Regions from separate parts of the Homo sapiens genome. Here regions 2, 3, 4, 5 and 6 are each reported to be linked to region 1. Evidence: microRNA targets listed by miRTarBase, many of them from high-throughput screens and not tested one by one. Region 1 holds a microRNA gene; each other region holds the end of a gene's coding sequence. Distances are from middle to middle.

Region 1 (3,123 bases):
ATCTGGGAGGTGGAGGGTACAGGGAGCGAAGTTCCTGCCACTGCACTCCAGCCTGGGTCACAGAGCAAGACTCCATCTCAAAAAAGAGGACCGCTGGGCACAATGGCCCACGCCTGTAATCCCAGCACTTTGGGAGGCTGAGGTGGGTGGATCTTGAGGTCAGTAGTTTGAGACCAGCCTGGCCAACGTGGTGAAACCCTGTCTCTACTAAAAATACAAAAATTAGCTGGAAGTGGTGGCAGGCACCTGTAGTCCCAGCTACTTGGGAGGCTGGGGCAGAAGAATTGCTTGAACTCAGGAGGTGAGCTTGCACACAAGATCGCGCCATTGCACTCTCGTCTGGGTCACAGAGCAAGACTCCGCCTCAAAAAAAAAAAAAAAAAAAAGAGGACCGTTTGAGCCTAAAAGATCTACGTTGGAAGTGCTACCCTACTCCAGCCTGGGCAAGAGAGACTCTGTCTTAGAAAAAAAAACAAAATAAAAACAGAATCCCACCATCATCCAAGTCTGATGATAAGCATGCTCTGCAAATGTATTACCAAGATCAGCATCAACTTCACTGTTGCTTTCCTCAAACAGTAAACCTCTAAAAGGATGCACTTTCTTTTCTTTCAGACAACAGAAAGCGCTTCCCTCTAGAGGGTCACAGCATGGGATCTTCTTGCTCCAGCACCCTGGGTTTTTTGTAGAAATTTTCCTTGACCAGGTTAAAATAGAGACAAAAATAAAGACCTATTTATTGGCTCTGTTTGCATGTTTTCTGGAATCCAGAACATAGACCCCTAAAAAGACCATCTCCCGTTCCTTCCTACAAAGGCTCAGCAGGTTAGCCTTGTTCATCAAGGGGAAATCCTCCTGAGTTTTGTGTCCAGAAAGAAAAAGCAATGCCTACTATGCATACCTTATATTTAACCAAGAGAATTGGGCTGGATTTCTAGAGAACAGCAGTGGATTTTCAGCCAAGTGTTCACTTGATTTCCAGCACAGGGACACACAGTCCTGATTAGAGCAGTCAAAATGGAATCTACCATGTTGAAGAATATACATTGTTGCACACACAAACATCCTCCAGGATAGACTACAAGGGAGGCCTTAAAAGCTCCTAAAGAAACCCTGTCTCTACTAAAAATACAAAATTAGCCAGGCATGGTGGCGCAGTCCTATAATCCCAGCTACTTGGGAGGCTGAGGCAGAAGAATCACTTGAACCCGGGAGGCGGAGGTTGTGGTGAGCCAAGATTGTGCCACTGCACTTCAGCCTGGGCAACAGAGACCCAGTCTTAGATAAAAAAACAAAAGAAAAACAAAACCCCAACATCATCCAAGTCTGATTATAAGCGTGCTCTGCAAAGATATTACAAAGATCAGCATCAACTACAACGTTGCTTTTCTCAGACAGTAAGCCTCTAAAAGGAAGCACTTTCTCTTCTTTCAGACAACAGAAAGTGCTTCCCTCAAGAGGGTCACAGCCTGACATCTTCTTGCTCTGATGCCGTGGATTTTTTCCTGGAATTTTCTTTGACCAAGTTAAAATAGACACAAAAATAAAGATGCATTTATTGACCCTGTATGCATGTTTTATGGAATCCAGAATATAAAACTCTATAAGGACCATCTCCAGTTCCTTGCTTCAAAGAATCAGCAGGTTAGCCTTGTTCATCAAGGGGCAATCCTCCTGAGTTTTGTCCCCAAAGAGAAAAAGCAATGCCTACTACACGTACCTTTAACCGAGAAAATTGGGCAGGATTTCTGGAGAACAGCAATGGATTTTAAGCCAAGTGTTCACTCGAGTTCCAGTACAGGACCCACAGTCACGAAGGGAGCATCCAAAATGGAGTCTACGATGTTGAAGAATATACACTGTCATATGCACAAACACTCTCCAGAGTAGATCACAGGCTAGGATGTAAAAACTACTCAATAAAATTTGAGCAGAAATACACAAGTACAAGTGGGGCCCAGTGGCTCAGACCTCTAACTCCTCGAACTTTAGGAGGCCCAGGCAGGAGGATCACCTGCCTCAGGAGCTCGAGACCAGCCCCGGCAACATGGCGAGACCCCATGTGTACAAAAATTACAGAAGTTAGCCAGGTGTGGTGGTGCATGCCTGTAGAGACTAATTCAGCAGGCTTAGGTGGGAGGTGGAGGTTGCAGTAAGCCGAGATTGCACCACCACACTCCATCTTGGGTGACAGAGGCAGATATTGTCTCAGAAAAGAACCACACACACACGCACACACACGCACACGCACACACACCCTAGGTGATATCGGAGTATTCTCTGTGTTTAGAAGAGTATTTTGTGTGTACATAATATATAAGAATATAAAATGAAATATACATCATGTATTTTTGAGACCCTGTCTCAAAGAAAGTTCCAAATATTGCATGCTTATAGGAAGAATAATTCCTATACATAACTGCTTGCTTTGGAAGTACACATAAAAAAATTTAAATGACATAGAATATCCTGGCCACTGCACAAAGGCGACACCCAAGTCCATGCTGGTCCCATATTCACCTAATTATTTTTATTTTTATTTATTTATTTATTTAGAGACAGAGTCTCACACTGTTGCCCAGGCAGGAGTGTAACGGTGTGATCTCTGCTCGCTGTAACCTCCGCCTCCCAGATTCATGTGATTCTCCTGCCTCAGCCTCCCGAGTAGCTGGGATTACAGGTGAGTGCCACCACACCCGGCTAATTTTTGTATTTTTAGTAGAGACGGGGTTTCACCATGCTGGCCAGACTGGTCTCGAACAACTGACCTCAGGTGATCCTCCTGTCTCAGCCTCCCAAAGTGCTAGAATTACTGGTGGAAGTCACCATACCCAGACTAGTCCCATATTTAAAATTAGGAAAAAGCAAAAGATGCCCACACCTCAACAGCAATGTTCGAGTACATCTCAAATACATTGCACATCCCATCTGCAAGGGACGCTGAGGTCCCCTTCAATTCTACGTGAACCCACGTGAGGTTCTATAAACCAGTGCCCGAATAATTTCTACGTAGGAAAAGTTGTTGATAGCCGGGCGTGTTGGCTCACACCTGTATTCACAGCACTTTGTGAGGCTGAGGCAGGTGGACCAACTGAGGTCAGGAGTTCCAGACCAACCTGGCCA
Region 2 (3,123 bases), not on the chromosome of region 1:
ACTTTGTCTTTTGGTGGACCTGGGTGCTGGGTGTGGTCATTACTATTGGAGTGTCATTGCTCTCACATCAGTGCAAAGGACTATACATACAAAAACATATTTACATCTATCTCTATAGACTGAAATACACGAGTTCACACTGATATCTCCAATTCGACACCACAGGGTTTATTCTAGTTTTCTCCCTTTCCATATTTGTGGGAGCCAGGTTTTTATGAGACAATTTTATTGGGAGATAATTCTGTGTCTCTTGTGGGTGTCTTAATTGTCAGATTTTGTACGCTTTGACCACCATTTAAATTTTTTAAATGCAACAAAATATCAATTTTGTTGATACTTTGTGGGCTGAGATGTTGACAGATTTTGTTCCAGACTATTTCAAGGATTTTTTTTTTCTTGAGATGGAGTTTCACTCTTGTTGCCCAGGCTGGAGTGCAACGGCGTGATCTTGGCTCACCACAACCTCCGCCTCCTGGGTTCAAGCGATTCTCCTGCCTCAGCCTCCCGAGTAGCTGGATTACAGGCTCGCGCCACCACGCTTGGCTAATTTTTGTATTTTTAGTAGAGACGGGATTTCTCCATGTTGGTCAGGCTGGTCTGGAACTCCCAACCTCAGGTGATCCGCCTGCCTCAGCCTCCCAAAGTGCTAGGATTATAGGTGTGCCACTGTGCCCAGGTATTTCAAGGATTTTTGTACAGCAAATGGCCTTAGAAGACAGAGATAGTATCTCCCTAAGATTGTGGTTCCTTAGCCGTCATGCAAACCTGCAGTGTGTAACACTTTCCTGGGCCTGCCAGTATTGCCCTGTGGGACTTGGAGGGCAAGGGAGACCAAGGCTAACACACTGCCTGCTGTGCCCTGAGCAGTAGTCTCTGCCCAAGTAATCCTGTGTTTTCTGCCAGCATTCATGAAGCTGGCTCCCTAACACAAGAAGTTGTTGAAAGTTCTACTCAGCTTCTTAGCTGCCTCTTCCAGAATCAGCAGGTGCCCTTATGGGAAAAGTAGCTCTAAGTCCCAGGCTCACTTCTCTTGAGTTTCCTTCGTGTCCTGAATTTTGGTTCTATATTGCCAGCTGATGCTTTCAGATAGATGCTGTTTATATTTTGCACAGCTTTTCTAGTTGTTCTCTATGTTCAGTGGGTCCAAATTTCCTGGTCTACCATTAGTGAAAGTGGCAGATGGTGAAGGCAATTTTCAACTCAAAGGTTTCAAGGCCACCAAAAAGAGAAATACACATGTACTGAGAAAGAAAAGTCAAGACCTGTAAGAAGTGTCACAGGTTTCTTAGGTCACACATACAAAACTGACCCATATATTCCTGAAAATGAACAGACTGTCTAGTGCCCCAGACCCCTGCTATGGATACCCTATTTGACCTTCAGGCTTAGTTCCAAAGCCAGCTATATCTTTTATAAAAGACTTTCCACCCTATCTCCTTCACCTCCTCACCCAGCCAAAGGAAACCTTCTTTCCTCTGTTCTCCCACAGGACTTTATACCTCTGTTAGGGCACTTCTCCATCTCTGCCACGTTATAGCTGGCTGACCACCCAAATTCATAATTAGCAACTTGAGGACCCAATCATGTCTTAACCATCTTTGCATTTTTCAGTATGTCTTGAATAGAGAATTTATGAAAATAAATGTTTGCATAAGCTGATAAAGGAGATGAAGAAAAACACACAGAAGGAGAAAACCAAGGGTGTGGGATCAGAAAATCCAAGAGAAGAGAGTGTTTCTGGAGAATGAAGCAATAACTGAATGCTGCTGAGAAGTCAGAATGATGAAGCCTGAAAAGTTTCCCCTAAATGTGGCAGCATAAAGGATTCAGGAGAACACTGACTTTTATTGAGGAAGACAGGTCAAATGTTGTTTGGAGTCACTGCATTTTTTAGGCAAGTCAATTAGACAAGCTTCTTTTTTTTTTTTTTTGAGACAGAATGTCGCCCAGGCTGGAGTGCAATGGCACGATCTCGGCTCACTGCACCCTCTGCCTCCCAGGTTCAAGCAATTCTCCTGCCTCAGCCTCTGAGTAGCTGGGATTACAGGCATGCACCACCATGCCTGGCTAATTGTTGTATTTTTAGTAGAGATGGGGTTTCACCATGTTGGTCAGGCTGGTCTCGAATTCCTGACCTTGTGATCCGCCTGCCTCGGCCTCCCAAAGTGCTGGGATTATAGGCGTGAGCCACCGTGCCCGGCCTGGCAAGCTTCTTCTTGAAGAAGGATGAACAGTTCTCAGCAAAGAGGAGTCATCATTCTTCTGAACCACCATAAACATTCCAGAGAAGAGGTAGATAGAAGGCTAGATCCTGGAGGATGTGCTGTGGTGAGCTAGGCCCTCAGGCAGGTGGTGGTGCCCAGCAGAAATGGCACTGTAAGCCAGGCTTCCCTGGTCCTAGGAGAATGTTTTAGACTAGATGTCTAGGAGAAGTCTGGGCACTACCACTGGTCTTCATAGACCTGCATCAGGCTGGTCCTAGGCCTCCTGTTCCAGCTACATAGTGGACACCTCCCTCTGGGCTATAGCACACAGGGCCACAGCGCAACTGGGGCTCTTCCTCCTCATACCAGCGCTGTTCACTGAAGTCAGGGAAGAAGGCTGCAATCTCTCTGCTGGCTGAAACCACAGAGTCTGTAAGGGGAGATAAGACAGAGAAGGGGTTCTCACATGGTAGAAGCAAGAGGCAGTCATAATCAGGTTCAGAATCCTGAGCCTCTACTCTGCCTGCCCCTTCAGTCCTGGGGCATGTAAAGAAAGTCCACAGGCCACATCTGCCAACATGGCTACAAAGACCAGAAACACAAATGGAAGAAAGCTCACTGGAGGGACCTGGCTGTCAACTCTACCACACAGCCTGCCCGCTAACCCCAAAATATCCTATGGCTATGGACAGGGGACTCACCCGAACCATGGGTGGTGTTGCGGGTGTCAGTGAGGCCGAAACTCCCACGGATAGAATCTGGGGCCACATGGCGTGCTCGGAACACTCTGGTGGGTCCCATGAGCGTCCTCCAGAGCTGGATGGCATCCTTGTGGGCAAGGATGTAGGCTCGGATTGGCCCGCTGTGAACAAAACAAGCACATGTAAAGAACCTGGCCATCTAGACTAGGAGGGTGTGC
Region 3 (3,123 bases), not on the chromosome of region 1:
ATGTACAATAAGACCCCTCTTTCTCCCCTCAAGGAATATAAAATTGCATTGATAACTGCACTGATGAGCAACAATTACATTTGAAACATTTAAAACCTGAGAGAGAAACCCAAATATGTTTAAGCACTCACGTCTACACTCAAAATGCCCTGTGAACTCTAGTGTAACACAGATTGCTCAGTGGTCAACAGTGCATGATCTAGCTGGCTCTGATAGGGACTGACGCCGGCTGCTGGCTTTTAACGGGAAGTGCTATTCTTGCCCAGGGCAGAGAGAGCTACATCCCCGCTGCCTGCTTGACGGACAGTCAGGGGCTTTTGTTGTTGGTTTGTTTTTGCTTTTTTTTTTAGACGGAGTCTCGCTCTGTCGCCCAGGCTGGAGTGCAGTGGAGCGATCTCGGCTCACTGCAAGCTCCGCCTCCCGGGTTCACGCCATTCTCCTGCCTCAGCCTCCTGAGTAGCTGGGACTACAGGCGCCCGCCACCACGCCCGGCTCATTTTTTGAATTTTTAGTAGAGACGGGGTTTCACCGTGTTAGCCAGGATGGTCTCCATCTCCTGACCTCGTGATCCGCCCGCCTTGGCCTCCCAAAGTGCTGGGATTACACGCATGAGCCACCGCGCCTGGACGCTTTTTTTTTTTTTTTTGTCTTTTGTTTTCATTTTTTCTTGCTTTCAGGAGAAAAAAAATCTTTGGCCCATAAAGGTGGGATTTTTACATCATGAAGTATACATACATAAAACATGCATGTGGGCCGCGCATGGTGGCTCATGCCTGTAATCCCAGCACTTTGGGAGGCTGAGGCAGGTGGATCACCTGAGGTCAGGAGTTCGAGACCAGCCTGACCAATATGATGAAACCCCGTCTCTACTAAAAATACAAAAATTAGCAGGGCATGGTGTTGGGCGTGTAATCCCAGCTACTTGGGAGGCTGAGACAGGAGAATCGCTTGAACCTGCAAGGCAGATGCTGCAGTGAGCCGAGATTGCACCACTGCACTCCAGCCTGGGCAACAAGAGTGAAACTCCATCTCAAAAAAAAAAAAAAAAAAAAAGGCACGTGTTCTCCGGCAAGCACCTTCCATCGACTCCAACAGTTCAGCCATCGCTGTTGTACTATCGGGGTGCAGCACTCTGAAGGAGTCAGGCCCAACTAGAACCAAGTGGTCAAAAAAATAAATACACAATTTAAAACAATGGACAGCTAAGCTTGTCATGACAGACAGTGGGAATTTCATTCCATGATGCTTCATTTTTGCATTAAATACTGAAGATGACTCAGTGCATAATTGCTTTGTGGTCCATGAGACGCTTTCGTGAAGGCACTCCTATCTGAAGGACAGGCTGGGTGAACACCTAGCACTGTCACTTGAGACATCTTGGCTGGTCACCAAGGTGAGCCGGCATACTGTCTCCATCACCCTCTGGTGAGTCTTTCCCCTCACCGGGTGGGAGGAGAAGGCCATCCCTTGGGGTCGTGGAGCCACTCTCTCCTCACCACGGTGGGCTGCCCTCCCCTTCCTCACTTGCTAGTCCCCGCTTGGTGGCCGATGCCCTGCCCTCCTTGCTGTCACTTTGGGAAAGAGATCCTCCTGAGGCACGTGTCATGTTTTATTCTTGAGTGAATTATCTGACCATCACGGCCCTTGCTCCCCTTTTATGACATGTGCCTGTTATTTCTTTTGTTGCTTATGATGACAAGAAGGCAGTCCCGGGAGGGGAGTCTGGCACAGCTGCCCTTGGGAAGGAACTGGTGTTTCTGAGGGGGAGGGGGCTGGTGGGGTGTAGCAAATGCTTATGTACGGTTATCCATACTCAGTCAATTGTGAAGGGAACAGTATACCCACAATTCCACCCAAAGACTCTACAAAATAAATCTTTCTCTCCATCTCCCTTACATTTAGGGCCTTTCATTTTTAAGGCACTGGGTTGTGAAGACTTGAAGACATACAAGGTCAGTAAAACTGAAGACCTTGCATCCTGCTTGCTTCAAATGTGGAGAGGCAAACACAGGCTACTGGACCAGACGGGAACGGTTACCCACGGTGACAAAAGCAGGTCTCCAAAGCACAGCATTTTGGTTAGTGCATTCCAGATGTGTTAGCTACAACTGGGGACACCAACTTGAATAACACATTTTTCTTTTAACAAAACAAAAGTTTACCCTGCTTGGATGATGCTAAATGCCCTTAAGCACTAGGCCTTCGGTTGCCACTGAGAAAGCACACCATTTCCATTCCACTGTGTGTGAAGCCACAACCCTACTAATTCCTTCATTAACTCAACAAGATTTGCATCCCTTAATAAATCCAAGCCGATGCGGAGACATCAGGGGAGACTTTATCAGATGTCCCCCAAGGGAGGGCAAGTCTGGAAGTAGTGGGGTTATGCTTCACAGGGGAGAGATACTGTTCTAGGAAAAAAAAACACCCACATTTTCTGGAAGGAAAACTGAGTTTTTTTAAGAGCAGTGTTTCATCCCGAGCTAAGGTCAGGATTAATGCCTATTTTTCATTTGGTTTGCATCAGAAGAGCTCGTTTTCCTTCCCAGCAGCTCCAGTGGAATTACTTTTTGGAATTAGAACTGAGACCAAACAAAGTGATGATGTCAGTCATTGCTTCTTTCAGGTGCCTTCCAAAGCGATGAGAATCCTTTCATGTAAAAACAAAAACCAAAAACCTATTAAAACGTGGCCATCCCCACATTTCAAGCTTTTTCATTTGCAATCTGACCCAATGTTTCATTGAAATTCCTTTCTGCCAGTTCTCTAAGATCTGACCAACGTCTTAAAGCTTAACTTAGACATTCCAGAGAAATGCTGAGGGTAAAGAGATGACAGCTGATGTGTTTGTGCGGGTGTGTTGTCGATCTAAGCCTTCCCCTAATGCCAATGCGTTTATCCCACGGAAAACACAATGACCATCCTGAGCATGGTGGCTCATGCCTGTAATCCCAGCACTTTGGAATCGCTTGAGCCCAGGAGTTCAAGACCAGCCTGGGAAACATGGTGAAACCACATTTCTACAAAAAATACAAAAATCAGCCAGGTGTGGTGGCACTCCCCTATAGTCCCAGCTACTCAGGAGGCTGAAGTAGGAGGATCCCCTGAGCCCAGGAGGCTGAA
Region 4 (3,000 bases), not on the chromosome of region 1:
CTGCGTTCAGAGGGCCGAGTCAATGTCACAGGAAGGGGAAGAGACATGTGCCCACAGACCCTGTGGTCATGGAGGGGGTGGAAGATCTCTGGAGGGCAGCAGGGCCACAGCAAGGCTCTGAGGTCCTGAGTCTTCTCCGTCCGTGGACTTAAACTCTGCGTGTTTACAGCTGTTCTGTGCCTGGGTCCAGGCTCTAGTGAGAAATAAACTGCCTTCAGAGCCAGGTGACAGCAAAAGAAATTTTATTCCCATTTTCTAGGGGACAGAAACAGAGCCCAGTGGTGCCTAGCATGTTTCTGGCAAGGGTAGTGAAAAGACCACTTCCTTTTGGGGGAAGTCTTTCAATTAAGAAAAACACACGCAACTCCTGGGGGTGGCTCCACCTGTACCCAGGACAGGGCCTGCCACTCCAGGGGCTCCCAGGCTGGATTTTCCACCAGAGCAGTCTTGGGGGCAGGAGCCTGTTAGAAATGCAGATCCCCAGGGACCTGCAGCGGTCTGGGCAGTACCTCCAACACAGCTGCTTAAGGGGAGGCAGTCCGGCCCTCATCTGGGAGCGCCGTGCTGACGCTGACTGCACGCTAGGGCTCTCGGGGTTGGGTGGACAGGGTTTCTCCGAGAGATGGGCTCCCAGCAGCCAGAGCACACTGTGGGTGTCAAGCTGCTGGTGGGAAGCAGGCTGTTCCCTGAGACCATGACAGGGTGAAGGTGGGAATCACCAGCCCCCACACTCACCAAGAAATGCTTTTGCTACATGCTGGGGCTTTTTTCTTTTTTTGAGAGGGAGTCTCACTCCGTCGCCCAGGCTGGAGTACAGTGGTGAGATCTCGGCTCACTGCAACCTCTGCCTCCCCGGTTCAAGCGATTCTCATGCCTCAGCCTCCTGAGTAGCTGGCATTACAGGCACACACCACCATGCCCAGCTAATTTTTGTATTTTTAGTAGAGATGGGGTTTTGCCATGTTGGCCAGGCTGGTCTCGAACTCTTGACCTCAAGTGATCCACCCACCTTGGCCTCCCAAAGTGCTGGGATAATAGGCATGAGCCACCATGCCCGGCCATGCTGGGGCTTTTCTAAGAACACAAGCACACCGGAGGGTAAGACAAGATTCTGGAGAGGCACAGACCCAGAAAGCCAGGGGCACACAGGAGCCTCGCCAGCGAGGGCGGCACAGGCCATCCATGCGGACCCTCAAATCTCATGTGAAGGCTGCATCAAGGTCAGTGCCAAGAGGAAGCAGAGCAAAGCATGTGACCACCTCTCTGAAGCCATCTTTGTGGACAAATGATGTAGGAACTCAAAAAAATGCAGGCTTGGCTAGGCGAAGTGGCTCATGCCTGCAATCCAAGCACTTTGGGAGGATCGCTTGAGCCCAGGAGTTTGAGACCAGTCTGGACAACATAGCAAGACCTTGTCTCTACAAAAAATAAAAAAATTAGCTGGGCATGGTGGCACATGCCTATAGTTCCTGCTACCTGGGAGGCTGAGGTAGAAGGATCCCTTAAGCCCAGGAGTTCGAGGCTGCAATGAGTTATGATTGCACCACTGCCCTCAAGCTTGGGCAACAGAGACCAACCCTGTCTCAATTAAAAAAAAAAAAAAAAAAGCAACTAACCCCAAACCCAGATCTCTAAAGTATTGGGTGTGGACTAGAGCTCTGGACGGCCTAAAGGAAAGGAATGTGCCGGTTCACAGGGACCCGCGGCTAAGCTCAAGGGTAAAATACAGCTTTACAAAGCATCTTTAGGCTGTTCCTTCCCAAACGTGCTTAGAAGGGAACAGGGAAAGGCGGGTGTGTTTTCTCACTGAGGTTCTTCTAGTGGCTGGAATCTGATAGAGTACCAAGTTGTAGGGATATGGATATATTTTCCCTTTGGCACTCCATAAAGCTAAATGTTGGGCTGAAAAAAGGATGCAGCCTATAAACAAGTATTTTTCCTGAAACCAACTGCATGAGGAAACGCTGCGCTCCCCCTCAGGGAGCAGTTTCTGAAGCCAGCTGAGCACAGCTGGCACTGGCCAGAGGGAGCCCTCCACCCTCCCACCACGTATGCCCACCTGCAAACCTGGGTTCTGAGTCCCCATGCAGGGGACAGACCTGAAAATTCCAGTTTGTGTCCTTTCAGGTCATCGACAGGAATGACAGCCTGGCAAGCTGCAGTGACTGCACACAGCTACCCTGTGAGCTCCACTTGTGTGGGTGCAGGTGGGCGACAGGAGTGTGTGACACAGACAGGCACTCCACCAGGAGGAAACCCACAGCAGACGTCAACCATCGCTTTATTAAGGCTGCGAGTCGGGGGGCTGAGTCATGCACTCCACAGACACCCCCACTGCTCCCAAGGTCCACTTTTGGATGACCCTGAAGGCAGAGACTCCTGAGATCTGGGCCACAATCTAGGGTGAGCCACCCACAGTGCCCTGCTGGACAGGGGGGTATGCGGACTGCACGGGGGGGCCCTCAGCAGGGGTCTTCCTGCCTAGGGTGGGGCTGGCTCCAGTGGGTCCTGGGCTCAGGCAGGGGGGGTGGCAGGGAGGCAGGGACATCCCCCCGCCCTCTGGCCTATGGCTTTGTTGCCCTATTGCCACCAGCGCAGAAGCAATGTGCTATACCGTGAGGTGATGAAGAAGAGCCCCGGGAGGGAGCAGGCAGCTCTGTGCCTGGGGCCTGGCCAGACCTCAGGGGTGCTGTGGCCCTGCTCCTGTTCCCCCTCAGCTCCTCCCAGCAATGGGTCTCCTCCAGTGGAGGTCAGTCACTCAGAAGTGGACCCGCAGCACGTCTTGGCTAGCAACCGGCCGCTGGCAGGCTGTGCACGTCATGGGCAGGGAGCGTTGCTTCTCACCCAGGCAGGGTCGGCACAGGAGGTGGCCGCAGGGCAGCTGGTACACCGGCTCCTTTTTGAAGTAGGGAGAAAATACTCTTTTGCAGGAGGCACATTCGGGGCCCAGGATGCTCCCAGGCTGCTCTGGTAAATCAGGAAGGAAAACAGGCCAGGGTT
Region 5 (3,123 bases), not on the chromosome of region 1:
TATCTTCTGTATGTTATTTTATCATTATCATATGTTTTCAGAAGTACAATTTTTTTTTTTTTTTGAGACGGAGTCTCGCTCTATCGCCCAGGCTGGAGTGCAATGGCACGGTCTTAGCTCACTGCAAGACCTCCCGGGTTCATGCCATTCTCCTGCTTCAGCCTCCCGAGTAGCTGGGACTACAGGCACATGTGACCACACCCAGCTAATTTTTTGAGTTTTTAGTAGAGATGGGGTTTCTCCATGTTGGCCAGGCTGGTCTCGAATTCCTGACCTCGTGATCCGCCTGCCTTGGCCTCCCAAAGTGCTGGGATAACAAGTGTGAGCAACTGTGCCTGGCGTCAGAAGTATAATTGTTAATGGCAGCATAATATTTAATTGCTGTGGAATGTAATTTACTCTAGTTTATTTCCTGAGACCTCACTGAAATGGTGACCTGCAACCAAAATTAACTCCAGCTGATAAGGGCGATAGCCTCACAAGGCCTTCTTCGTGGTGTTATCTGGGGCTGAGCACTGTCCTTGTAAATTGAGGGAACAGCTTCCCATCCACTCTCCTTTTACTCTCTTTCTTTCTTTCTAACAGCACACCATATGGTCCCTCGGCCATCAGTGCCACCTCCTGGTGCCAATGAGGAGATCCCTGATGACTTCGACTGGGACTTGATCACTTAGTGCATCACAGAGTGTGGACATCAGCCCAGGGCCGCGTGGTGAAATCTGGCAGTGGGGAAAGAGCAACCCCAGCCCGTCCCTTCCCCCCGTCTGTATATAGACATATATCCTCTTTTTGTTCTTTCTCTGTCAGAGAAGCCACTGCAAGATGCTGCCGAAGATAACCCTCTCTTTCCTGCCTCATTCTTCTCTCTTCCTTCCTGTTTTTTCCTAGTTCTTTTATTATTATTCTTATATTATTATTATTATTATTGGTTATATACTGTCCATAGTCTCCTGTCCCTACATCATGGATCATGTCCACCTTTTGCTAATTTAAAATCATCAGGCTGGAAGATGAAGCCATGATAGCTACAGAGAAAGGTTTTAGACTCCAGTTTACCTTTCTCTTGGAGAAACTCAATGCTAATCCCACCTTTTGGCCCTAAATTGTTTTTTGTTCCCATCAGTTTCAGGCCAGGACTGGAGAGGCCACATTACCAAGTAGAAAGGGTCTGAAACATTACTTGGCAGCCAAGAATTTGGAGGTTTTAAAATGGTGCTAATTCTGTCCTCTGAGGTCTTCCTTGTCCCTTTATACCTTCAATCCTTACTTCTGCCAGTCTGTATTTCCTATCAAGGGTGAAAGTGATGATGGTGGTGCAGGAGGGTGACAATAAAATCCTAGTGGAATTGGAGACCATTGGAAGGGATGGAATATAAGTCAGTGTGAAACTGAGTATACACTGCCATGTTACATCAGTGTCCATTGGCTTGTTTTGAGCCTGTTCTCTAAGAAGATAGGATTGGTTTTAGCCCAAACTCTGCTTCTATGGTAGGGCATGAGGACAACTATTCAGCATGGTTTTAGCTTCTTGGAGATGATTCCAACTTAACTATTTTGGCTTTTTAAACATAATTTTCTCTGAAAATTAATTGTGGCTCTTATTTGCATTTACGAATGATCTTCCCATCCCTTTTTCCCATTCAGCAAATATTAGTTTGTCCTCCTTTAATTGTTTGCCCAAATCTTCCACCCATCTTTTTTCTTCCCTCATTTTCTGGGATTCTCAAGAAAGAAAAAGTAACCCATTATCACTCTGAGTTTCGTCGTGCCCTGAGACATGATGGGAATCTCATTCCCACCTCTCATAGCAGAGCCAAACCTTTAGTGTTGGTGGTAGGAGGATGGGGAGAGGAAAAAAGAGCTGGCAAAGAAATGGATAGGGAATATTTTAGTTCTTTAAATATATAGGCAGATGCTTCTCTTGGAATCCAGATCATCTGGCTGAAGCTTTTGCAAGTAGGCTTTGAGGGGTGAAGGAGATTGGTGGAGGAGAGTAAATAATCTAGAGGCAAGAGTTCAGTGAGGGCCAAGGGGGACCCCCAGAAAAAGGTATGGAGCTAACTCATCTCTTTTACAAGGGGTGGCCATGACTTACTGTTGCAAAGTACTCAGTGTATATTTAATGTTGATTGTTGAATTTTAGTTACGAGAGGGAAGAACAATTTTACTTCTGTCCTTATTTCACTTGCTGAAAAGCTGTGGGACAAAATGTATGGAATAGACAAGGCCACTTTCTTTGTGATTTCTGCTTTTCATGCATATTATTTTATTTACCCATAATTTCCAAGAGGTTTGGCGTTCCGCTCTCCTGCTTTTTTCTTTCATCCACCCCTTTCCTTTTTTTGGAAGGGGGTTATATATGAGAGTTCATTGAAGAAGTCCAGTGAGGCTGAAGTAAAGGGGCAAGATAGGGCAGTTAACTAAAGAGCACTTTATTTCTTTGAAGCCTTTCTAAGAAAGAAATGGGGGTGCGAGTGGCTTGAATCTCCCATGATGTTGGAGGGCACTTAGTGGGGTTGAAGTATGACATAATATTTCCCATTGGGGAAAGGAGAATTTCTCTTAGAGGGTGGCAAAATGCCTTTGCCCAGTGTCCCTATTTTAGGCATCTTTTCCTTCCTTATTCCTTCCAGTCAGGGTGTGTCCTATACAAAACTTCCCATCAGTTCTCCTCAATATTCCCCATTTGTAAATGATCACTTCTCTTTTCTAAACCCTTTTCCTGTTCAGATCCATACAGGATTTGCAAGGGTAGGATCATACATGCAAATGCCCCTTGTTCATCTGTGTCTTCTGCAAACTAGTCTCATGAAGAATTCTGGCGTGCAGCCAGGGTAGCTGAAGTTTGGGTCTGGGACTGGAGATTGGCCATTAGGCCTCCTGAGATTCCAGCTCCCTTCCACCAAGCCCAGTCTTGCTACGTGGCACAGGGCAAACCTGACTCCCTTTGGGCCTCAGTTTCCCCTCCCCTTCATGAAATGAAAAGAATACTACTTTTTCTTGTTGGTCTAGCATTGCTGGACACAAAGTGTAGTCATTATTGTTGTATTGGGTGATGTGTGCAAAACTGCAGAAGCTCACTGCCTATAAGAGGAAATAAGAGAGAAAGTGGAGGAGAGGGAC
Region 6 (3,123 bases), 530 kb from region 1:
ATTCTGGAGAGAAACCTTACAAGTGTGATGAATGTGGTAAAGCCTTCAGTCAAACATCACAACTTGCAAGGCATTGGAGAGTTCATACTGGAGAAAAACCTTACAAGTGTAATGAGTGTGGCAAAGCCTTTAGTGTTCATTCAAGCCTAACTATACATCAGACAATACATACTGGACAAAAACCATACAAATGTAATGATTGCGGCAAGGTCTTCAGACACAATTCGTACCTTGCAATTCATCAGAGAATTCACACTGGTGAGAAACCTTATAAGTGTAATGAGTGCGGCAAAGCATTTAGTGTACATTCAAACCTAGCTACCCATCAGGTCATCCATACTGGAGAAAAACCTTACAAATGTAATGAATGTGGCAAGGTCTTCACTCAAAATTCACATCTTGCAAATCATAGAAGAATTCACACTGGAGAAAAACCTTATAGGTGTAATGAGTGTGGGAAAGCCTTCAGTGTTCGTTCAACCCTAACTACCCATATGGCAGTCCATACTGGAGACAAACCTTACAAATGTAACCAATGTGGCAAGGTCTTTACTCAAAATTCAAACCTTGCAAAACATCGAAGAATTCATAGTGGATAGAAACCTTACAAAGGACGCCGGGCGTGGTGGCTCACGCCTGTAATCCCAGCACTTTGGGAGGCCGAGGCGGGGGGATCACCTGAGGTCTCGAGTTCGAGACCAGGCTGGCCAACACGGTGAAACGCTGTCTCTACTAAAAATACAAAAATTAGCTGGGTGTGGTGGTGCACGCCTGTAATCCCAGCTACTCGGGAGGCTGAGGCAGGAGAATCACTTGAACCTGGGAGGCGGAGGTTGCAGTGAGCGAGATCATGCCATTGCACTCCAGCCTGGGCAACAGGAGTGAAACTCCATCTCCAAAAAAAAAAAAAAAAAAAAAGTAACCTTACAAAGGAGTGCGGCCAGTTTTTCAGCCACAAATTCTTTCACAACATCAGAGAATTCATTCTTGAGACAATTCTTACAAATACAGTGACTGTGGCAAACTCCTGATGAGTTTAAGCATTAACAGACATCAGAGTTCAAATCCTGTGAATATACTATGTATGACAGAAGCTTTATCCAGGTCTCAGAGCTCAATACGCATCAAAAGATACATCTTTGATGAAGTCACACAAACGTAACATGCATGCTGAGACTATTACTCCTGGACCACAACTGTAGGTGAGGATTCATAGGAAGAGTAGAACTCAGTCTCTAGTTTCCTCATAACCCTCTGATATTATATACTTCAGCATAATCAGAAGTCCAAATGTGTTAAAACTCATTACATGATACATATCAAAGGTTGTAGGATGTTTGGAAATGGCCAATTACTTTCAGCTTATAAAATGTTTTGTTGAAGTATTTAAGATTTATTGAAAAGGCTACTATTTATAACTTCCAACCAGAACTTTGCAATGTGCTGATTTTATACATGATTATACGCCTAACATGGTGTTGTTCGGGAAAGAATCAAAGGATGGAAGGGCTCACTCACTTCATTAGGTGAGGATTATTTCTCTCCAAGCTCCTGAAGAAAAAAGACTCTGCCTTTTAAAATTAAATATAGTCTGAATTAGAGAGCACTTGGAAAGGGCAGAGGATGATGAACTATGATGTCACTCATCATCCTTATTGCACTGCAGGTGCCCTTCTTCTGACAGAAGAGCACTGTGGGTATGGGAAGAAATTCTCTACTGGCCGGGCACAGTGGCTCACGCCTGTAATGCCAGCACTTTGGGAGGCCAAGGTGGGTGGATCACCTGAGGTCGGGAGTTCGAGACCAGCCTGACCAACATGGAGAAACCCCATCTCTACTAAAAATACAAAATTAGCCAGGCATGGTGGCGCATGCCTGTAATCCCAGCTACTCAGGAGGCTGAGGCAGGAGACTCGCTTGAACCCGGGAGGCAGAGGTTGTGGTGAGCCGAGATCATGCCACTGCACTCCAGTCTGGGCAATAAGAGCGAAACTCTGACTCAAAAAAAGAAAGAAAGAAATTCTCTACCAGTAGACCATGAAATAGAGCCAGGAAGACACTCGGATTTTTATTAGAGGAGAGTAATAGCTTATTAGGGACTGATGTGTGGTACAAATAATGCAGAAAAGTGGAGGCTACCTTCTCCATCAAATGCCAATAGCTGTTGCATAGCAAAGATTGATTTTTTTTTTTTTTTTTGAGATGGAGTCTTGTTCTGTTGCCCAGGCTGGAGTGCAGTGATGCAATCTCAGCTCACCGCAACCTCCGCCTCCTGGGTTTTAGCGATTCTCCTGCCTCAGCCTCCCAAGTAGCTGGGATTACAGACATGCACCACCACGCCTGGCTAATGTTTGTATTTTTAGTAGAGATGGAGTTTCACTATGTTTGCCAGGCTGGTCTCGAACTCCTGACCTCATAATCCGCCCACCTTGGCCTGCCAAAGTGCTGGGATTACGGGCTGGAGCCACCGTGCCCGGCCGGCCGAGCATAAGAAGTTTAATCAAAGTAACCAGAATCCCATGTTTGTTACTAGGATTTACATTAACTGCTGGAATCACATTTTGCTACTATTTAAGAATGCATCATAGATTTAATGTTTTAACTAATAAAATTTGATGTATTTTATAAGTATGAATGAATCATTTCTTGCCAACATAGTTTTATCCTACCTCAGTAGCATACTTCATAACAGATAACAACACTGCACCATTAAGCTATCGAAGGATCTAGAACAATGATTTCCATTGTTGGATCAAACAACATATAATTTTCAGAAACTAAGTGTATTTTGGTTTTTTTGTTTGTTTGTTTGAGATGGAGTTTCATTCTGTCACCCAGGCTGGAGTGCAGTGGCGTGATCTCGGCTCACTGCAACCTCTGTCTCCCGGGTTCAAGCAATTCTCCTGCCTCAGCCTCCCAAGTAGCTGGGATTATAGGTGCCCGTTACCACACCCGGCTAGTTTTTGTATTTTTAGTAGAGACAGGGTTTCACTATGTTGGCCAGGCTGGTCTCGAACTCCTGACCTCAAGTGATCCACCTGCCTTGGCCCCCCCAAAGCTCTGGGATTACAGGTGTGAGCCACCATGCCCAGCCCAGAAACTAATTGTATTTTGTACTTGAAT

The links. Region 1 holds the annotated microRNA hsa-miR-526b-3p (GAAAGUGCUUCCUUUUAGAGGC, at 1,402-1,423, opposite strand). A microRNA usually pairs through its seed, bases 2 to 8, with sites in the 3' UTR of a target mRNA and lowers its output. Matches are read on the target gene's strand: a 7mer-m8 pairs with bases 2 to 8, a 7mer-A1 pairs with bases 2 to 7 and ends in A, and an 8mer does both.
Region 2: the mRNA of NME6 is a reported target of hsa-miR-526b-3p. Seed matches in the 3' UTR shown: 7mer-m8 at 2,163-2,169 and 7mer-m8 at 641-647.
Region 3: the mRNA of CPT1A is a reported target of hsa-miR-526b-3p. Seed matches in the 3' UTR shown: 7mer-m8 at 589-595.
Region 4: miRTarBase lists UBOX5 as a target of hsa-miR-526b-3p. Seed matches in the 3' UTR shown: 7mer-m8 at 1,021-1,027.
Region 5: miRTarBase lists FOXJ2 as a target of hsa-miR-526b-3p. Seed matches in the 3' UTR shown: 8mer at 2,428-2,435.
Region 6: the mRNA of ZNF665 is a reported target of hsa-miR-526b-3p. Seed matches in the 3' UTR shown: 7mer-m8 at 648-654 and 7mer-m8 at 1,753-1,759.

Annotation. Positions count from the first base shown.
Region 1 is chr19:53,692,743-53,695,865 of GRCh38, reverse strand. It overlaps MIR526B (microRNA 526b), which reads right to left and starts at 1,473; the gene lies at 1,391-1,473. MIR519B (microRNA 519b) reads right to left here and starts at 653; the gene lies at 573-653. LOC107985342 (a long non-coding RNA gene) reads right to left here. Exons shown (of 3, transcript XR_007067332.1): 3 at 1,244-1,837.
Region 2 is chr3:48,292,170-48,295,292 of GRCh38, forward strand. NME6 (NME/NM23 nucleoside diphosphate kinase 6) reads right to left here. Exons shown (of 6, transcript NM_001308426.2): 5 at 2,906-3,066; 6 at 148-2,634. The coding sequence ends at 2,468. Among named protein-coding and RNA genes, the nearest start is that of NME6, 7.6 kb to the right of the region's middle.
Region 3 is chr11:68,755,081-68,758,203 of GRCh38, forward strand. It overlaps CPT1A (carnitine palmitoyltransferase 1A), which reads right to left. Exons shown (of 19, transcript NM_001876.4): 19 at 1-2,650. The coding sequence ends at 2,564. Among named protein-coding and RNA genes, the nearest start is that of TESMIN, 5.1 kb to the left of the region's middle.
Region 4 is chr20:3,107,348-3,110,347 of GRCh38, forward strand. UBOX5 (U-box domain containing 5) reads right to left here. Exons shown (of 5, transcript NM_014948.4): 5 at 226-2,967. The coding sequence ends at 2,759. It overlaps UBOX5-AS1 (UBOX5 antisense RNA 1), which reads left to right. Exons shown (of 7, transcript NR_038395.1): 1 at 1-224; 2 at 2,128-2,403; 3 at 2,931-3,000. Among named protein-coding and RNA genes, the nearest start is that of UBOX5-AS1, 1.9 kb to the left of the region's middle.
Region 5 is chr12:8,052,177-8,055,299 of GRCh38, forward strand. FOXJ2 (forkhead box J2) reads left to right here. Exons shown (of 11, transcript NM_018416.3): 11 at 586-3,123. The coding sequence ends at 674. Among named protein-coding and RNA genes, the nearest start is that of C3AR1, 13 kb to the right of the region's middle.
Region 6 is chr19:53,161,929-53,165,051 of GRCh38, reverse strand. It overlaps ZNF665 (zinc finger protein 665), which reads left to right. Exons shown (of 4, transcript NM_024733.5): 4 at 1-2,628. The coding sequence ends at 599. Among named protein-coding and RNA genes, the nearest start is that of ZNF347, 4.4 kb to the right of the region's middle.